Linked DNA regions of Homo sapiens. The protein of the gene in region 1 purifies or fractionates together with the protein of each later gene. This does not show direct contact. Each region holds a gene or a part of one and is shown on either strand. Other genes may lie near its edges.

What was found. Proteins that work in one complex are often made in the same cells at the same time.
Region 2: the proteins of ZBBX (region 1) and DHX32 purify together in Homo sapiens (affinity purification with mass spectrometry; 2 studies listed by BioGRID and IntAct, with this or other methods). This does not show direct contact.
Region 3: the proteins of ZBBX (region 1) and FZD3 purify together in Homo sapiens (affinity purification with mass spectrometry; 2 studies listed by BioGRID and IntAct, with this or other methods). This does not show direct contact.
Region 4: the proteins of ZBBX (region 1) and WDR62 purify together in Homo sapiens (affinity purification with mass spectrometry; 2 studies listed by BioGRID and IntAct, with this or other methods). This does not show direct contact.

The regions. Positions count from the first base shown.
Region 1 is NC_000003.12:167,240,963-167,244,875, reverse strand, and holds part of ZBBX (zinc finger B-box domain-containing protein 1), read left to right. Parts: intron 1-2,232; coding exon 2,233-2,371; intron 2,372-3,913.
Region 2 is NC_000010.11:125,874,117-125,879,052, reverse strand, and holds part of DHX32 (putative pre-mRNA-splicing factor ATP-dependent RNA helicase DHX32), read left to right. Parts: intron 1-4,936.
Region 3 is NC_000008.11:28,499,952-28,504,887, forward strand, and holds part of FZD3 (frizzled-3 isoform 1 precursor), read left to right. Parts: 5' UTR 1-27; intron 28-2,718; 5' UTR 2,719-3,062; coding exon 3,063-3,251; intron 3,252-4,936. UniProt on the Homo sapiens protein: Receptor for Wnt proteins.
Region 4 is NC_000019.10:36,052,778-36,058,372, forward strand, and holds the start of WDR62 (WD repeat-containing protein 62), read left to right. Parts: upstream 1-2,119; 5' UTR 2,120-2,194; coding exon 2,195-2,371; intron 2,372-5,595. Other genes in the region: THAP8 (THAP domain-containing protein 8), read right to left, coding at 1,358-1,440. UniProt on the Homo sapiens protein: Required for cerebral cortical development. Plays a role in neuronal proliferation and migration.

The DNA.
Region 1 (3,913 bases):
CCTTAGTCTAATTGCTATTATTTTTAAAGAGATTCCTCAATGATCAGAGAAGGTACTCTTACTCCAGGGATAGAAAAGGTTTAACTATAATTTATTTCTCAACAATCAACTGACTTGCCAGTTGTAACTTTTCTAATATAAATGTTAATCCTGTCTTACCTGGTGCTGAATTAGAAAAATCAGCAGACAGATTTGTGTACAATTGACCTTTTGAGTTTAACACTAACCTACAATAGGGTTGTTATGAGCAGTTTTATTTTTCTCTGCCTTGATTTTTCTGTTACCTAAAATCAAGTGGTATCACCTTTGTTCCTGTTAACTTTACAGGTATTCTGAAATATAATTTTGAGAATAAATAGTTCTAGAAAAATAGACTCATTCTATTTGCACAACTCGGAACAGCTTTATGCTCATTCAATTAGCTCAAATGCATAATAGAGTTTGGATATCTCACCTGCTGGTATTCTTTAGATCAAAGCATTGCTGTTGGGTTTCAGTACTGTAATTCTACCAGTTCCAAATCCTGAATTTACTGCTTTCTTGTGGGAGCATTCCCTTTCATTAGGACATGTAAAGGTGCCTTGGGTCTTCTTTTACCATACGGAAAAATAGGAGAGAAGATAATAGCTTAAAGCTAAAGAATTAGATTCTGGAACAGAGTGATTTACAATATTGGTGAGCTACCAGAGATTAGTTCTAGTTTCAGCTCTTCCACTATATGGCCGTGTGACTTTCAGCAAGTTATTAGTTCTTCATGGGCCCATAATTCCCTGATCTCTAAGTGAAGATGGAAGTAATTAGGAGGTTTAAAAAATTTTAACTAAAAAATCTTTTGTCTTTTTCAAAATTAATCTTATATAGAGCCCCTAAATTTAGATCAGGTAAAGTCCTGATTGCTGAGGATATGGTGGGAGCAGGAACCAAATCCTAAGCTTATTGAACGTACCCATGCATCATGATTTCAAAGTCAAGGGGCTAAACAAATTTAGGGACACTTCCATGTGTAAATTTATTGAGGTCTATTTTTCAGTGGGAATAATCTGATTTACTTTCAGTAGGGAAATCTCTATTTGCTCAAAAATGTCAAGTTGATACTAACCACCAAAAAAAAAAAAAAAAAAAAAAAAGTCAAGTCCACTGTAGAACACATGTATGTTGATGTTTGGTTCCTGTGACCAGGAGGAGGTTTATTTGGTCCTCTCATAAAAGTAAAGGGCTTTGGAAGGCCGAGGTGGGCAGATCACGAGGTCAGGAGTTCAAGAGCAGCCTGACCAACATGGAGAAACCCCGTCTCTACTAAAAATACAAAATTAGCCGGGTGTGGTGGCACATGCCTATAATCCCAGCTAGTTGGGAGGCTGAGGCAAGAGAATCATTTGAACCCAGGAGGCGGAGGTTGCGGTGAGCCAAGATCACACCATTGCACTCCAGCCCAGGCAACAAGACCGAAATTCTGTCTAAAAAAAAAAAAGGGAAGAATAGCAACCAGTAATTTTGACAGTTTTAACAGTCATCATAGTATAACTTTATGTATAAGTTAGGTGGCTCATTATAATTTCAGCAGTGAAAAAAGAAGGCATTGTAGCCTTTCTAATATACAATGATATTTAGTTACATACTTGAATTTTTGGTAGTTTATATGAAGATACATTTGCCTAAAGACTTTGTTTGTTTAACTTGCAGTATTTGTCCTTAGCTAGGCTAAATCATAAGCCAGCTTCATGAAAAGAAAAATTTAAGGCTTCTCTGCTTTCAAATATGAACAGTTATTATCTACTCAAACAAAGCAAGGAAGTCAAAAAAGAAAGAGCAACTTTGCCAAGGCTAATCTTTCCCTTAGACTGTGTGGGAGTAAAGCTTTTATTTCTTATAAGAAAAAAGATAACAAAATGTCCAACAGGTTGAGTGGCTGCAAAATATTGTAGCTTTAAAGGGGGTCATTTGATTTTTTTTTTGAAATTTTATGAGGTCTCAGGACATTTGACACATGTTATAAATGTAATGTATATTTACAAATCAATATGATAAAAATGACTTGCTACCCATGCCCCAATTTGGAATCTCAAATCAAACTTACCTCACAAACATTAGAAAATTGAGGAATAATTAAAAATCTATGCTGACCTTCTTTGTATTGCCTGTAATTTACTCTGGGTAAACATTCAGCACCATATGCTGTATATTTGTTTCTTGAATTTATGTTTTGACAATGCATGAAATAAAATATTTCAGATACTTCAGAAAAGCTTTACAGCTTAACCTCAGAAGAGTTCCCAGATTTCAGCAGCCAATCACTGAATATAAGTCAGATTTCCACAGATTTCCTTAAGACCTCACATGTGAGGGGTCCCTGTGGAGTTGAGGAATTGAGGTAAGTTAAGCCTGCAGTTTATTTATTAATATAGTATGTAGTAAAATTTTGACAAGCTCCAACTAGTTATCTTTATTATATATAGAAAGATTGTCCTCATGTGTATACTTTATATGATCATTCTTTATAGAATGTTTGGGTCCTTTGCTGATCTATTATCGAGATTTAGTAAAAGGCTTATAAAGTTGTTACTTTAATGTGAAGAGATCATTCTCTACTGTACAATATGTATCATAAAAATGAAAAGATATTTGGAATATAATAATCCTTCAGCATTTCTTATTATATTGAAAATCAATGGCCTTATTTGAATTAATTAACCTAATAAATGTCAATACTTTGTATTAATAGAATCCTACCCAATGTGAATAAGGTTTTTAGAATCAAATAGTAAGTTTCTTTCTTGAAATCAAGCCTAGAAAATTAACAATAACATATTTTAATTTGTATGATATCATTCTTTCCTCACATAAAATACATTTAGGGATGGTCAGATCAGCTTACAAGGAATGTAGGTTATACTAGTAAATGTTTCAGAAAAGTAGTCTATTGTTTCAGTCTATTATTGACACACTGCAATTCCTTGAAGAAGGAGCAGGATTTCTTCTAGAAAGACTAAAATAAGTATAAAATAAGTTATTTGTATTGTAAATTTCTTTGATTGAAATTTAATTGAAATCTGATACTGCAGTAAAAAGGGAATCAGGAGTTTCTTATTCTTTCTGGAAGAGGAAATCATTGAGTTGTTGTTCTTGGTTTTTACATTTCTTTCTCTTGTAAAAAAATTTTTTAAGACAGGGTATCAACATGTTGCCTAGGTAGGTCTGAAACTCCTGGGCTCAGGCTATCCTGCTTCAGCCACTTAAACAGCTGGGACTACTCAGGCCACTGCACTCAGCCTGGATTTTTGCATTTCTATTATCATTTATATTTGTTTAAAGGATCAATGTAAGATTGATATTTTCTTCCCTTAGATAAATCATTAAAAACAAACTACACCTACAAGTATTCTCATCATTCATAAAACAAATGACATTCAATACTAAAAATATAAGGGGACCTTACTAACAGAATAAGGTGCCCCCTGCTGCCACCAATAAAATGCAACAAAATAAAATAACAAACAAATGCCGTCATTAATTTTTGCTTCAGCATATCTTGACTGGCTATCTACATAGTCCTAATTTACAGTATACAAAAGAGATGATTTATCTGGCAGTCTATTCACTGGGATTCTATTAAACAGCCAATGTGATGATGAATGTTCTTAATGATGACCCTGAGGCTCTGCAGGTTTCTAAAGTGCCTCTGAATCATCAACAAAAGACACAATCAGAGACCATAAAGTCTCTCCTTGATTCTACTGTGGCTGTATTTCTTGGGAGAGGGAGAATGATGAGAATTTCTCATTAAAAGGAGGCTTGGTATATTGGGCACATTGAAAATTATGGCCCCAGTCTGATACAGCTCCCTCACATCTGCTTGCCTCCAGCAACTCCAACATATGTAGTATTGATCAGAAGATAAATGAAGAGTTGAAAC
Region 2 (4,936 bases), on another chromosome or scaffold:
GACCCCGTCTCAAAAAAAAAAAAAAAAAAAAAAAAAACAAGAAAAGGCTGGGCGCTGTGGCTCATGCCTGTAATCTCAGCACTTTGGGAGGCCGAGACGGGCAGATCATGAAGTCAGGAGTTCGAGACCAGCCTGTCCAATATGGTGAAACCCTGACTCTACTAAAAAATACAAAAATTAGCTGGGCATGGTGATGCACACCTGTAGTCCCAGCTCCTTGGGAGGCTGAGGCAGGAGAATCACTTGAACCCAGGAGGTGGAGGTTGCAGTGAGCTGAGATTGTGTCACTGCACTCCAGCCTGGGTGACAGAGTAAGACTCCATCTCAAAAAAAAAAAGAAAACAAAACAAAACAAAAAAAAACACCAAGAAAAACAAGGTAGTGTAGAGAAGGAAAAAGTAATAATTTTCTCTGTCCTTCATAACTCTTATCTGAGGCTCCCTGTAACAAAAGACAAATTAACAGAAGAAAAACAGAAGTGTATTAATATGTATGCCTCATGTATACACGGGAAAACCCCAGAGAAATGAGCAAGTCTCTAGAGTAGATCTCAAAGAAAGCATTTAAATTTTGGGCTTAAATACCATCATTCTCTGAAACAAAGTAAAAAAGGTTGTGGGGAACAACCCTGTTAAGATGAGATGGCCAGGAAAAGCACCTTAAATGAAGGTGAAGTTTGTTATGAAGATGTAAGTCGATGTCTTCTTTACTTAGTCATCTCCTCCTGTTGCAGAGAGGGAGATGCCCTTATAAGCAGAGATTTCTTGTATAGGCACAAATTTATCTTTAAAAAGGTAACTTTTCAGAGCTACTCCTATGTCTACACTTTCTCAAAATGTGCAAAGGAGGCATATTTTGGGGTCACATATTCTGGTCTCCTTCAGTCATATTCTGGGGAGGTATGTCCTGAGCCCCAACATTAGATAGTTAATAAATACTTATTATTCAGTTTGTTGTTGTATTTGGACTTCAAGTTTTTGTTCAAGTGAGATCCATATTTTACTCTTAAGTTTTAAAGCAAGCAACCAGTATTTTTATCATGAAATTCATTTCTAGATTCTCGCGATGTAAGAATTAGAATAGACCATATAGTGTGAATAATAAGAAGTCCCATTTCTCATAGAGAAGTTACGAATAGATCTAGTAGAATAGACTATGCTCTAATAGAATAGAATTAGAAACTGATGGAACCCCTTCATTTTTCAGATGAATAAACTGTGGCCCAGAAGGATTTGATAATTTGTCTATCTAATGTCAGTAGCTTTCTGAATTGGAGTTAAAAGAATATTTTCTACTATAAATTGTTGCTTTCAAGTTGTTTATTATCTCTAGAGTTTACCTATTTTATTATCACTATTATTTTTTGAGACAGAGAGGCTCGTTCTGTCACCCAGGCTGGAATGCAGTGGGGCAGTCTTGGCTTACTATGACCTCCGTCTCCCGGTTCAAGCAATTCTTGTGCCTCAGCCTCTTGAGTAGCTGGGATTACAGGCATGCACCATCATGCTTGGCTTATTTTTGTATTTTTAGTAGAGTCAGGGTTTCACAATTTTGGCCAGGCTGGTCTCGAACTCCTGGGCTCAAGCGATCCTCCCACCTTCACCTCCCAAAGTGCTGGGATTACAAACATGAGCCACTGTACCTGCCCTAAAGTTAACTTACTTTAAAGGTAATTTGAAAAGAGGAGGGCTGGACAACAGATGTTTTTTATCTGATTTACAGCTGCCAGTATCAAAGGTTTATTATGATTTGTTCTTTGTTACGCTGTTATTGTTATAACAAACGATTTCAGTTCATTACGAGAAGCTAACGATGAGAACTGACTGAGTATAATTTTCCTAGTTTCTGTGGACAAATAACATTGAAAAAATGTGTTTTTATTTTACAATAATTTCAAACTTACAAAAAGTTGCAAAAATAGTACAAAGATTTTCCATATGTTGTTCACCCAGATTCCCCAAATGTAAGATTTTACCATATAAACTTTATCTTTCCCTCCCTGCCCCCTCCATACATTCATACACATTTTTATTCTGAACCATTTAGGGGTAGGTTGAGGACATGATGCCCTTTGCCTCCAAATACTTAACAGAGTATTTATTTACTGAAAAACAGTGTGTAGCCGTAACATAATTATCAAAATCTGGAATGTAATGTTGATATCTAATTATTATCTGATTTCTAGACATTCACATTTAATCAGTTTCCCATTGATAGCCTTTATAATCACTGAAAAAAATTGTTTTTCTGGTCCAAAATCCAATCTAAAATTGCATTGTATTTTATTGTCGTTTTTTAATCTGACACAACTCCCCAGTCTCTCCCTGTCCTTTATGACTTTGACATTTTTGAAGAGCACAGGTTATATATTCTGCAGAACCTCCCTCAGTTTGAACATGTCTGATGTTTCCTTAGGGTTAGGTTCCGGCTCTGCATTTGTGGCAAGAAGATCACACAAGTGCTGTGTATCCTTCTCAGTGCCTCATATCAGGAGGCACAAGATGTCAGTTTTGCCCATGCTGGTGATGTTAATTCTGATCCCTTGGTAAGGTGGTATCTGCCTGGTTCTTTATTGAAAAGTTAACAATTTCCCTCCAATCATTTAATAGATACATATTTTGAAAGTATGTAAATGTTTCTCATTATACATTTGTAACCACCCAATGGGTTCATCTTGTTTGTTGTCAAGATAGAGCCAATTTATCAAGACAAGGGAATTGAAATAGAGAATGAATTTAATACACATAAAGCTGGCTAAACAGCAGACAGGAGTTGTACTATTACTCCAATCAGCCTCTTTGTCAATTTGGAGGCTAGAGTTTTTCAAGGATAGTTTGGTGGGCAGGGGGCTAAGGAATGGGTACTGCTGATTGGCTGAGGATGCAATCACAGAGGTGTGGAAAACAGTCCTCATGTGCTGAGTCCACTTCTGGGTAGGGACAACAGAGGAGTTACTGGTCTATCCAGTTATAGGGCCTCCAGTTGTCAGAAATACAAAAACCTGAAAAGACATCTCAGAAGGCCAATCTTAGGTTCTATAATAGTGATGTTATTTACAGGGAGGTTACAAATCTTGTGACCTCTGGAATAATGACTGGTAATCATTTAACTACACCTACATCTTGGCAGAATTCAGGCCCCTCTCATCCTCCTAACCTGGTGTCCTTTCATTAGTTTTACAAAGGCAGTTTCATTTTGCTGTCATCATTTAAACTATAAACTATCTACAAAAGTTAGCTTGGCCCACTGCAGGAATGGCTAAGGGAGTTTGGGGGTGAAAGGCAAGATGGAGTTGTCAGGTCAGATCTCCTTCACCATCATAATTTTCTCACTGTTACAATTTCTGCAAAGGCAGTTTCACATTCATCCACTAGTGTTAGCATTTTTGGTGATTCTTACCTTTGAATTATTACATTAGTAGTAACCAAAGATGATTATTCTAATTCTGACATGCCTTCTACACATTATTTAGAATCTTTCTGTAAGTCTGAGCTTTCTCTCCTTCATCATTTATTTATGTCAATGTGGACTCATAAATTCTTATTTTATTCTATGGGTTATAATGTATTACTAAGCCTACTTACTTTGTTGTTCAAATTGCCCCCAATGTGGCTTCTCTGTCCTTTTGACATTTCCCCATTATTGAGCACTTCTTTGCTTTCTGGCTCAGTAAGATGTTCCAGGTTCATCTAGTACATTCCGCATGCCGGTGTAGAAACCATTTTTTTTTTCTCCAGGAGTCCTTGTTCCGTTTAGTGGTGAACTGTGTTTTGAAACCAAGATCTGGACACTAAGTACCTATTACCATTGGTTTATCATTGCAATTTTTTTTTTGAGACAGTGTTTCATTCTGTCACCCAGGCTGGAGTGCAGTGGCATGATCACGGCTCACTGCAACCTCAACATCCTGGGCTCAAGTGATCCTCCCACCTCAGCCTTTAGAGTAGCTGGGACTACAAGTGTGTGCCACTACACTCAACTAATTTTTGTATTTTTTATAGAGACGGGGTTTTGTCATGTTGCCCAGGTTGGTCTCGGACTCCTGGGCTCAAGCAACCTACCTGCCTTGGCCTCCCAAAGTGCTGGGATTATAGGCCCACTTCACCCGGCCTATCATTGCTTTTAGGCCATCTCAGTGGACACAACAAGGAAATAAATGTATGTGAGTGCAATATACACACGTCTCATTCTATCCATCTATTTGTGGCTCTGTTTCTCTCTGTCTTTCTCTATTTTTATGTATTTCTATTTTCTTACCTCTCATATTTTTTATCTCTCTTTCTATATCTTAAAAACCATGAGTTTGTACTGATGCCTCTGATTCCAGTTTAGCACTACAGGGTTTATTCTAGCCTTCCCAGTTTTCATATCCATAACTTCTCTATGAGAAACAGGGCTTCGTGTTATTCACACTATCTTTACCTGTTCTCAGATTGAACAAGTAAAGATACTCAAAAGAACAATTCATATTGTAGTTTCAGAATTGCTAATCCACACTGCAGTTTAAAAAATTTTTTTAATCTACTTCTTGAGTTTTAGAATTTATCATCTTCAAGAGCAAGAATTGTTATATGTTATATGTTATATTAATACCTAGCAATGGTTTCTCTTGTCATTTTTAATTTCTCAATTATTTCAATGAATTAGGCTTATTTTCTGTTAATTGGGACGACATGTATCTTCAAAGTGAGAAAAATCAAAATGGTACTCAAATAAGAAAATGGATCTATCCTAAACTAATTTAGATAGTGGGAGCATTGGTTGGTTTCTTTTGGAAACAACTTGGTTTTTGTTGTTGTTGTTTTAAGAGTTTGCGAGACTGTTTTCTTGTTCTTCAGAGTTTTAAACCTTTCAAGAAAAAAGTCTTTCTTCAGAGCCAAGCTTTACAAAGGTCCTAAAGATTTCACCTGTCTTTGGTGCAGAAACAGAGGACAAT
Region 3 (4,936 bases), on another chromosome or scaffold:
TGACTTATGGAGCACTTGTAACCTGAGGTAATCATTAGAATGCATATCATTCTCCAGGATTCAGATTTCCAGGGGAATCCATGAATCTGCTACACTTTACGATTAGAGAACTGCTGTTTTGGGGGAAATGAAAATTCTTTAACACCTATACTTTACCTGTTTTCTTCATGTCTCACTGAATTCCACTGCTGTTTTTTCCCTTCTTTTAATAATCATAAACTGCAGTCTTGCTGTATCAAGATTCTTGTCCTTTCACAGCTTAACAGTAGATTTTACAAAAGCATCTTGGTACATGGTAATTTGAATGTCATAGTACATAAGGAAGCACTTTTATAAGAAGGTAGGATGCTTTACTTGCAAGTAAGGCAAAAGGAATAATCAAAAGGAAACCAGGTAAAATAGATGGAGTAGGCAGAAGTATAGGGGGACATTTCAGCTAGTTTTAAAGGCTCAGTGAGATATTGCTCAGTTTCTTCTTCAGGTTTTATGTGGTAGTCTTCTTTGAACCATTGATTTGAAACCCATACCTGCTTGAAAAATAGATTAGTTTAAATGAAATTTTTGAAATTCTTGTTGTTACTATATGCGTATTCAACAGGGAGTAATGTTCCCTTTAATTTTATTTAGTTGCAAGCAGATGAATATGCTGCATAAGTAATAAACTACAAAGACTGAACTTACATGGATGTTTTAATACTACAATCAAATAAAACTTTCAACAGTTACTTGACATATTTAGTGATATGCATAATTGTTACTGCGCTGCATGGTAATTAAGATAAATATGTTTTTAACTGTGGTTAATACCAGTTTTCTTTTTTTTTTCTGATGGAGTTTCGCTCTTGTTGCCCAGGCCTGGAGTGCAATGGCATGATCTCAGCTGACTGCAACCTCTGCCTCCCAGGTTCAAGCGATTCTTCTGCCTCAGCCTCCCAAGTAGCTGGGACTACAGGCGCCTGCCACCACGCCTGGCTAATTTTTTGTATTTTTAGTAGAGACAGGGTTTCACTATGTTGGCCAGGCTGGTCTTGAACTCCTGACCTCGTGATCCGCCTGCCTCGGCCTCCCAAAGTGCTGGGATTACAAGCGTGAGCCACTGCGCCCTGCCCAGTATCTGTTTTCTATAGGCAGATCTCAACATTTGTGGGGAGAAAAAGAAATATGGCAGGCCAAGAATCTGTTTCAGAAATTTCTGATGTAGAACATGAGGCGCTTTAGGGCTTTTTGAGCAGGGTTTGCTTTTACCTTAGTTTCCTAATTCTAGGGACCATAGACTTTTCTTTTCCCTTCTGTTAGTCAAGACCATCTACTAGAGGGAGAAATTGGGAAGATTCAGTCACTGTTTTACTTTCTCCAAATAGTTATCTGCCTAGTAACTGAAGCTTGGGACATGGAGTTCCCAGTCATTGATAGTTAATGCACAGAGGACAGTTTCTTTCCCCACTTAAGCCAAAGCAGTTCCAGGTCCCACAATCTAAGTTATCATAGGTGCTAGTATTTAAGTTGTCCTATTAGTCTGGGTCTTTGAGAATTTCTGAACCTGAATTTCTCTTTTCCTAACCTAGGCTCTCCACAACAAACATAAGACTATCCAATGCATATGAAACAAATTGAAATAAAAGCAAAGTTAACATCGTTACTAAACCAAATCAAAATGTGATAGCTTAGAATATACTTTTTTCATACCAGACCTGCCTTCCACTCCACCCACACCCTCTCAGCTGAAATTGAGAATCACACATATTTTTGCCCCTGGAAAAGTACATACAAGTCAGAAATTCTAAAGCTCTGTGGAAACAATAACTGGGAATTATTCTTATTTTTCCTGTGACTTTTTAGGGATGATTTCTATTCTCTGTGCAGCATGGCTGTGTGTAATGACCGTTCGTTGATGAAATATTTCTTAGTGCTACATCTGTGTTATTAAATTTTTGTACTGTCTAAAAAATAATATAATATTGTGAAGATTTCCTAATATTTTAGAACCTTCTATATGTCAGTTCAGTATTGGTTGATAGAGGTAGCATTTGTATAAACTAATTCAATGATTAAAATGTCTAACGCTTCATACTGCTTTACCATTTATAAAGTACTTTTGCATACATTATCTTATGATTCACTCATATCATCCCTGTGAGCTAGGTGGTATTGGAATCATTTTCAAGAAGAAAAATTCTAGGTACATAGAAGTTAAGTGGTATGTTTATATTCACACAGCTAGCAAGAGGCTTGAATCTGTATCTTTTGACTTACTTTTCAGACCACTTTCACAGATGCCTTCTGCTACATCAGTTAATACAAAAATATACTATTAAAGATTAAAACACATGCAATTTTAGTTCAATAATTTAGGTTATAAGCGTAATATTTATTATTTAAATAAAATTTAGGACAATAGCATAATAATTTTTCAAAATGAATCAATTATATATTGTGACGGATGAAAAACTGCCATTATACATGAGAAGTTGAACCATGTGTTATATAAGCAACTGAGGGATGAAATTAAATTTGCATTTAAATGCTGTTTAAGGATCATTTTAGTGTAGCTATAGCATAAATGATAAAGTAGAAAAATGATATCTTTATAAAGTACCCACATATTGTTAACTATTAGGTCAGTATAATATCTCTCATCAAAGATTTTTAATGTCAAGTCCATAATACTTTGAGAGGAAATGACTAATTTCTCCCATTTTTTAAAATAATACTTTTCAGATATTTCAGTTGAAGGAAGAAATAGCTCTTCTCCTAAGATGGAATCTGTGGTTTGGGAATGTGGTTGATCAACTTGATATGTTGGCCAAATGTGCCCCATGTAATAAAATGAAAAGAAGAGACAAGATGATGTCATTTTCCCATATTGTGAAACCAAAAACAAACGCCTTTTGTGAGACCAAGCTAACAAACCTCTGACGGTGCGAAGAGTATTTAACTGTTTGAAGAATTTAACAGTAAGATACAGAAGAAGTACCTTCGAGCTGAGACCTGCAGGTGTATAAATATCTAAAATACATATTGAATAGGCCTGATCATCTGAATCTCCTTCAGACCCAGGAAGGATGGCTATGACTTGGATTGTCTTCTCTCTTTGGCCCTTGACTGTGTTCATGGGGCATATAGGTGGGCACAGTTTGTTTTCTTGTGAACCTATTACCTTGAGGATGTGCCAAGATTTGCCTTATAATACTACCTTCATGCCTAATCTTCTGAATCATTATGACCAACAGACAGCAGCTTTGGCAATGGAGGTAAGACTTGATCTATTCTTTGACGTATCTTAGTAAATGACTCTTGTGTTGTCCCATCAGCCAATCTAATGAATGTGTTTGATAAACAACAGGAAAATAATATGCTATTTTAAATTATATCTTATAAATTTAAAAATGTATATGTTTTGCTTCAGACTCTAATAGATTGAAGAATTCACATTTGGTGAATGTTACTCTTATATTTTAGACATTATACTTTTATAAAGAAATTTGAAACATCAGAACATGGGAGATAGCAGCCATTCAGAAGTTTAAAATTTAAGAATAACTCCCAAGCAGTGAAAAAGTTTTTGTCAATGCGAATTATCTGTTCTTGATCTCTCAGAATTTTATGAAAGTTTGCTGCCTTATTTGAATTTTTCAGTGGTAATTCTTCAGACATTTCTTAATTATTTTAGTTTAGAAACTATTTCAAATTTAGAAACTATGGACACATTAATTGATATAGTTAATAATAGGTTTAAATAAGGGTATATCTGTCTATAATGGTTTTAGAATTGAGGACAGGGATATATATACCAGATAAGAACTAGCAGGCAGTAAGCAGTGGTGGTAATGACCATAGGCTTTGAGGTAGACAAACCTGGGTTTGAATTCTACCTCTACCACTTTCTAGCTGTATACTTTGGCCACGTTATATGAACTTTCTCACCATAGTTTCTTTGCTTGTAACTTAGAGACTTCAGTAAGGTACAAAGTGAAAATCCATGTATAGTACTTGGCGCATAGTAAGTACTCTATAAGTGATAGCTTTTACCGTTAATTCATATTCTCATATTAACGTGGTTACATAACATAATTTAGAGGGAATGTTTGATACATTACTCTTCAGCCTATTTCCATAGCGCTTTCAGCAAATGGAAGCCTACATGTTTTGGAATTCTTCATTTTATAATAAAACCGAAAAGTTCATCATTTTAAGGGAGACTAACCTAAGTCTAAGAAAATTTGTAAGATTATTATTCATAGATTTTGAAATAAGGAGGGCATCTTATATATTCCAAATATTTGAAAATGCTGTAGAGGTTGAACAAAACATTTTTTGCTTTTCCTCTGAGTACACGAGGTCTAAGTGGTTGAAGAGAGAGAATTGGTATAGGCTATCAGATTAGGATATATAAAAATGGGTATTGGTTTAATACAGTAAGTTGGTTCCAGGCATGGTAGTCTTTGCTATGTATTAAAGCTATCAATTTCTCACAGAAAATTGAACTAGAAACATTTTTATTTCTGGTATCATTTTAAATCATAACTCCTTTGGGAAGCAAATAGGTTAATAAGAAGCAGGTCATAAAGATGTTTGTCCTGACTTGGGTTCAACTTTTGGCTCTGCCATGTAGTAGGTTTAAGACTTTGGACAGGTTACTTAACACTCCTGATCTTTGTTTTCTTCATTTGTGAAAAGGCAGTATAATGATACACCTTGAAGGGCTGTTAGGATTAAATAAGAGATTTATGAAGTAGCTAGCACAATGCATCATACGCAATAGGTGATTCACAAATATTAATTCTACTCCAAATTCCATTTCTAAATCATCTAAAGGGAAGTACTAGAAACACCATGTATTTGCTCCAGTGAATTTGCATCCCTCATTGTAGGTTCATGGGGCATTCATTCATAGTGATAGCATGATAGGCTCTCTCTGACTTCTCAAATATGCACA
Region 4 (5,595 bases), on another chromosome or scaffold:
GAGATGTTTCATTCTTACTTGATGTGATTTCAAACAGCAAAGTTTGTGATCATCTCTGACTTTAGACAACCAAAGTTTCCTACTAAGAAAGCAGTAGACACTCAAAGGATGGGAATTCTGCCACTTTACATCTGCAGTATGTCCAAGAGAAATATTTTTTCCTGGCTGGGTGCAGTGGCTCACGCCTGTAATCCAAGCACTTTGGGAGGCCGAGGCAGGAGGACTGCTTGTGCCCAGGAGTTTGAGACTAGACTGGACAACATAGGGTGATCCCATCTCTCTCTTTAAAAACAAAATTTTTTTTTTTGAGACGGAGTCTCACTCTTGTTGCCCACGCTGGATTGCAGTGGCCTCATCTTGGCTCACTGCAACCTCTGCCTTCTGGATTCATGCGATTCTCCTGCCTCAGCCCACGGAGTAGCTGGAATTACACGCATGAGCCACCACGCCCATCTAATTTTTGTATTTTTAGTAGACACGGGGTTTCACCATGTTGGCCAGGCTGGTCTCGAACTCCTGACCTCAGGTGATCTGCCCGCCTCGGCCTCCCAAAGTGCTGGGATTACAGGCGTGAGCCACCAAGCCTGGCAAAAAAAAAAAAAAAAAAAAAAAAAAAAAAAAATTTAAATTATCCAGGCATGGTGGCGCGTGCCTCTGGTCCCAGCTACTTGGTAGGGTGAGGTGGGAGGATCACTTGAGCCCGGGAGGTCGAGGTTGCAGTGAGCTGTGATCGTTCCACTGCATTCCAGCCTGGGCGACAAAGCGATCTTGTCTCAAAAAAAAAAAAAAAAAAAAGCAAAGAAATGTTTTTTCCTAGTAATTCTTCCACCAACTGGCTTATGTCAGCCAGATAAATAAGGAGACAGATCTTTTACAGTCGAAGCTAATTCTGACTTTCCCAAGTATGACGAAAGAGGTAAGGATGACATTTTTTAAACCTAAGCAACAAGAAGAATGAAGCACGCTACTAAGATAAGACAGACTGGAAGGTTTTGGGGAGACACGATCGCAAGCTCAGTTTCGGATGCTCTGAGTTTCAGATGGCTCAAATGCGTGGGGAGGGCAAGTGGGCATCTGCAGGCTCTCTAACAGCCTGCACCGACTTCACTTCTTACATCCCTTTCACTCTTCGGCTCGCTTCGCTCGCTATCTGTAGTCAATCGTCTACTCCTGTTTCCCACGCCTGCACCTTTGTATGTGCAATGGACACTGCCAGGAAGGCCATCTCCTCATGGTTTAACCCCACTTCCTAACACCCTCAAGCAAGACCAGAAGCCCCGCACAGCAGCACTAATGCTCGGGCCCCACCCCTCTCAGGGTCCCGCCTCCCTCAAGCCCCGCCCCGCGCTGCGCTCACTTGTAGAAGCTCACAGGGCGGTTGTCTGCACCCAGGCGGCCCGCAGTGTTGGAGCAGTTCGGCGCCCTGCAGTACTTGGGCATGGCTATCCAGCCCCCGCTGAGTTTTGCCGGGTCAGCGGCTGCACTTTGGTTCTCGCGGAGCGCCGCCTAACCCCGCCCCACCCGCGCTCGCCGCCTGCCTCACGTGACGTCCGTGGAGTCTCGTCACGTACCGGGGAGAGAGCTGAGAGCGCCTGCCTACTAGGCGCCCCTCCACAGTGCCACAGTCCCGCCCTCGTCACGTGACGAATGGGCCATAGCGAGTACTGTGCACCTGCGCAAAGCCGGCCCTTCGTCACCCCGACTTTCATCACGTGTTGGGGGGAAGGGCGGCGTCACGGCGTTTCTGAGCCTGCGCCAACCAAATCAACTGGCTAGTCAATCTCTTACGGCTCCACCCTACGCCTACATCCGGGCAACCGTTGGGGCGCACATAGTTCCTCTAGGTGGCGGCAAAAACCGAGGTGAGGCGGCCGTGGCCTTAGCCTCGTAAAAATTAAAACCTGTATGTTTCAGCGAATAATGAAAACGCAGTCTGGATGAAAGACCCCATGACGCTTAATCAGGCATCCAGTACACTGGCTGTGGCCCCGCCCCGCCAGGCACTCGCTCCGCCTCTTCGCCCCCATTGGTTCTAAGCGCCGCCCGGCATCCCTGCGATTGGCTAGGCCGGGCCCGTCGCGTCCAATAGGCGGTGGCGCCGGCTTTCCCGCGGCTGTTCGCTGTTCCAGTGGGTCGTGGCGGTGGCGGCAGCGGCGGTTAGGGGATGTAACGGTCGCCCGCCTCCGGCGTGACGATGGCGGCCGTAGGGTCCGGAGGCTATGCGCGGAACGATGCAGGGGAGAAGCTGCCCTCTGTCATGGCGGGAGTTCCGGCGCGGAGGGGCCAGTCCTCCCCGCCCCCCGCCCCACCAATCTGCCTACGGCGGCGGACGCGACTCTCGACGGCCTCCGAGGAGACGGTGCAGAACCGGGTGAGAAGCTGCTCGCCATGTCTACCCCAGTTCCAGGCTTCCTAGGTTTCCCCTAGTCCCGTCCTGAGAACTGTGGCCCCGACATCAGCCCCCGGCCAGTCCCCTCAGGTTGTTCCCTGCCATGCCTCGTCCCCTAACCCCCGCCCCTTTAGCCACGGCCCCTCCCACTTTCTCCTCGCTGCTTTCCCGGCTCCACCCTCAGCGTTGGAGCAATTCGGGGGTTCCTCGCTGGTTCCCACCCGTGGAAATGCATTTTGCTTCTGTAAATCACAGCCTAGTCCTGCTATATTTTAACCCCCGTTCTATCGCCTTTAGACGTCACGATCATAGCTCACTGCAGCCTCACTGCCCTGGCCCCCGCTGAGTCATTAAGGTCCCTTCGAGGGTTCGGTCCAGAGTGTTACCTGCCCCAACTCTTCCTCGCTTCTACCCCGCCTTCTCTCACCTTCTGCGATCTCTATCCTTTTTCCTCACCAAGGTGGGATTCTTAATCCATATTGTCACTCAAAACTATGAGAAAGACGTGAGAAGTTATTTATAAAATCTCTGCAGTGCTGCCTGGGGAGGAGGGCGTACAGAACAGTTCCCTAAATCCTGAGACAGAAAAATGGAAAGAAATGATTTCACAGTAGGTAGAAGGAATTCCATTAGCACAGCGGCAATTAAAAAAATTGTTTTCCAGCTGTGTAGGCACAAAATCTGTTTTTATAAAATGGAGATGATAAGAACCATACTACTGGTAGGGCGCGGTAGCTCACGTCTGTAATCCCAGCACTTTGGGAGGCCAAGGTGGGCTGTTCACCTGAGATCAGTTCAAGACCAGCCTGGCCAACATGGTGAAACCCGTCTCTACAAAAAGTAGAAAAATTAGCCCGGCATGCTAGCGCGCGCCTGTAATCCCAGCTACTCAGGAGGCTGAGGCGGGAGAAATCGCTTGAACCTGGGAGGCGGAGGTTGCAGTGAGCTGAGGTCATGCCACTGCACTCCAGCCTGGGCGACAGAGTGAGACTCTGTCTCAAAATAAATAAATAAATAAATTATACTATTGCATTGGAGGGAAATGAAATTTTAATTGTGATCTTCTTGGCACGGAGTCCAGATAAAGGGAGGATACCTGGTAGCTGCTGGTGGAGCTTGTTCCTGCCCCATGACTTTCTCCTGCACTGTGATTATACCGCCCACTCCTGGCTACAGGGCTCTGGCTGTACCTCCCATGTGCTCTCTGTCACCAAGGTTCAGTCACACTGGCCTGCTTTTGGTTTTCCTGAGGCTCCATATTCTTTTCTGCCTCCTGGCCTTTGTGATTGGTGAGTCCTCAGCCTGGGCTTTTTGCTGCAATCTGCCTGTCTGGCTCCTTCCCATCCTTCAAGTCTCAGCCTGAATGTCGCTATCTTGAAAGGCCTTCTCGAACCCCATTCTAAAGCAAACAGCCACCTTCATCTGTCACCCAGCACCCTATACTTCATAGCCTTTATCTTATATGTTCCTGAAAGTGCCCTTTGAGCTATTAAACTACATATAACAATAGCAAATTCAGAGAGGCGTTATAGCAAAGTGGCTAAGAGCACAGACTGCTGCTGATGGTATGGTTGGACCCAGGCAGCCTGAGCTTAAACTTTAGTCCTGTTCTTCCTGGCAGGTTATGAACTTCGCTTTTTCTTTTCTTTTTTTTTTTTTTTGAGATGGGGTCTTACTCTGTCATCCAGGCTGTAGTGCACTGGGTTGATCTCGGCTCACTGCAGTCTCAGCCTCCCTGGGCTCAGGTGATCTTCCTGCCTCAAGCCTCCTGAGTAGCTGGGACTGCAGGCGCATGCCACCATACCTGACTAATTTTTTTGTGTTTTCTGGTAGAGACAGGGTCTCGCCGTGTTGGCCAGGCTGGTCTTGAATTACTGAGCTCAAGCGATCTGCCTGCCTCGGCCTCCCAAAGTGCTAGGATTACAGGCGTGAGCTACTGTGCCCCGCCAAGTTATGAACTTATCTGTGCCTCAGTTTTCTTATCTGTAAAATGAGAATAATGATGTAGAAATCTCTCATAGGGTATTTGTGAGGATTCAATGAGGTTACATATCCTAGGCACTTAGAACAACACTGGCATATGGCAAGTACTCTATTCATGTTAGCTAATACTGATATTATGACTGTGTATTTGGGGTAATATTTATTTATTTTTTTTGTTTGGCAGCACAGAGTTGATCTGTCTTGCAAAGACCTAGTCTAAAAGTGACCATTCATACCAGGGCCCAGTAATGCTGATCGACAGATAAGACAACATGAGTGCCATGGCTTGGTTGTTTGTGTTGGAATCCTGGCACTACCCCTTCCTGGATGGGTAACCCCTCTTGGCCTCTGTTTCCTCAACTGTTTTGTTCCTTTTTTTTTTTGAGACAGAGTCTCACTCTGTCGCCCAGGATGGAGTGCAATGGTGCCATCTCAGCTCACTGCAACCTCCGCCTCCTGGGTTCAAGCGATTTTACTGCCTCAGCCTCCTGAGTGCCTGGGATTATAGGCATGGGCCACCACACCTGACTAATTTTTTTGTATTTTTAGTAGAGACAGGGTTTCGCCATCTTGGCCAGGATGGTCTCAAACTCTTGACTGAGCCACCACACCCAGCCTTGTTTAAATTTTAAATATTACTGTTCATGTGGTTTTTTACTCGTTGAAACCGCTCAAATTTCTGGACTGTGAATCTGATGTGGGGAAACTGTCTACCTTTGGTCACTACTGTGTCTCTCCTGTACAGCCCAAAGTGCTAGCTTTGGAGCCAGACTGCCTGGGTTTGTATATCAACATTGCCACTTGCAGATGTAGGATCTTGGGCCTCAGACTTCTTACCTGTAAAACAGGGGTGATAATAGAGCCTTCTTCGTGGCTTGTTGGGAGGATTCAAGTCTTTTATACATATAAAAGTACTAAGAGGCCGGGCACAGTGGCTCATGCCTGTAATCCTAGCACTTTGGGAGGCCGAGGCGGGTGTATCACCTGAGGTCAGGAGTTCGAGGCCAGCCTGGCCAACATGGTGAAACCCCATCTCTACTAAAAATACAAAAATTAGCCGGACATGGTGGCATGTGCCTGTAATCCTAGCTACTCAGGAGGCTGAGGCAGGAGAATTGCTTGAACCTGGAAGGCGGAGGTTGCAATGAGCCAAGATCTCACCACTGACTCCAGCCTGGGTGACAGAGCAAGACTCCATCTCAAAAACAAACAAAAAAAAGTAC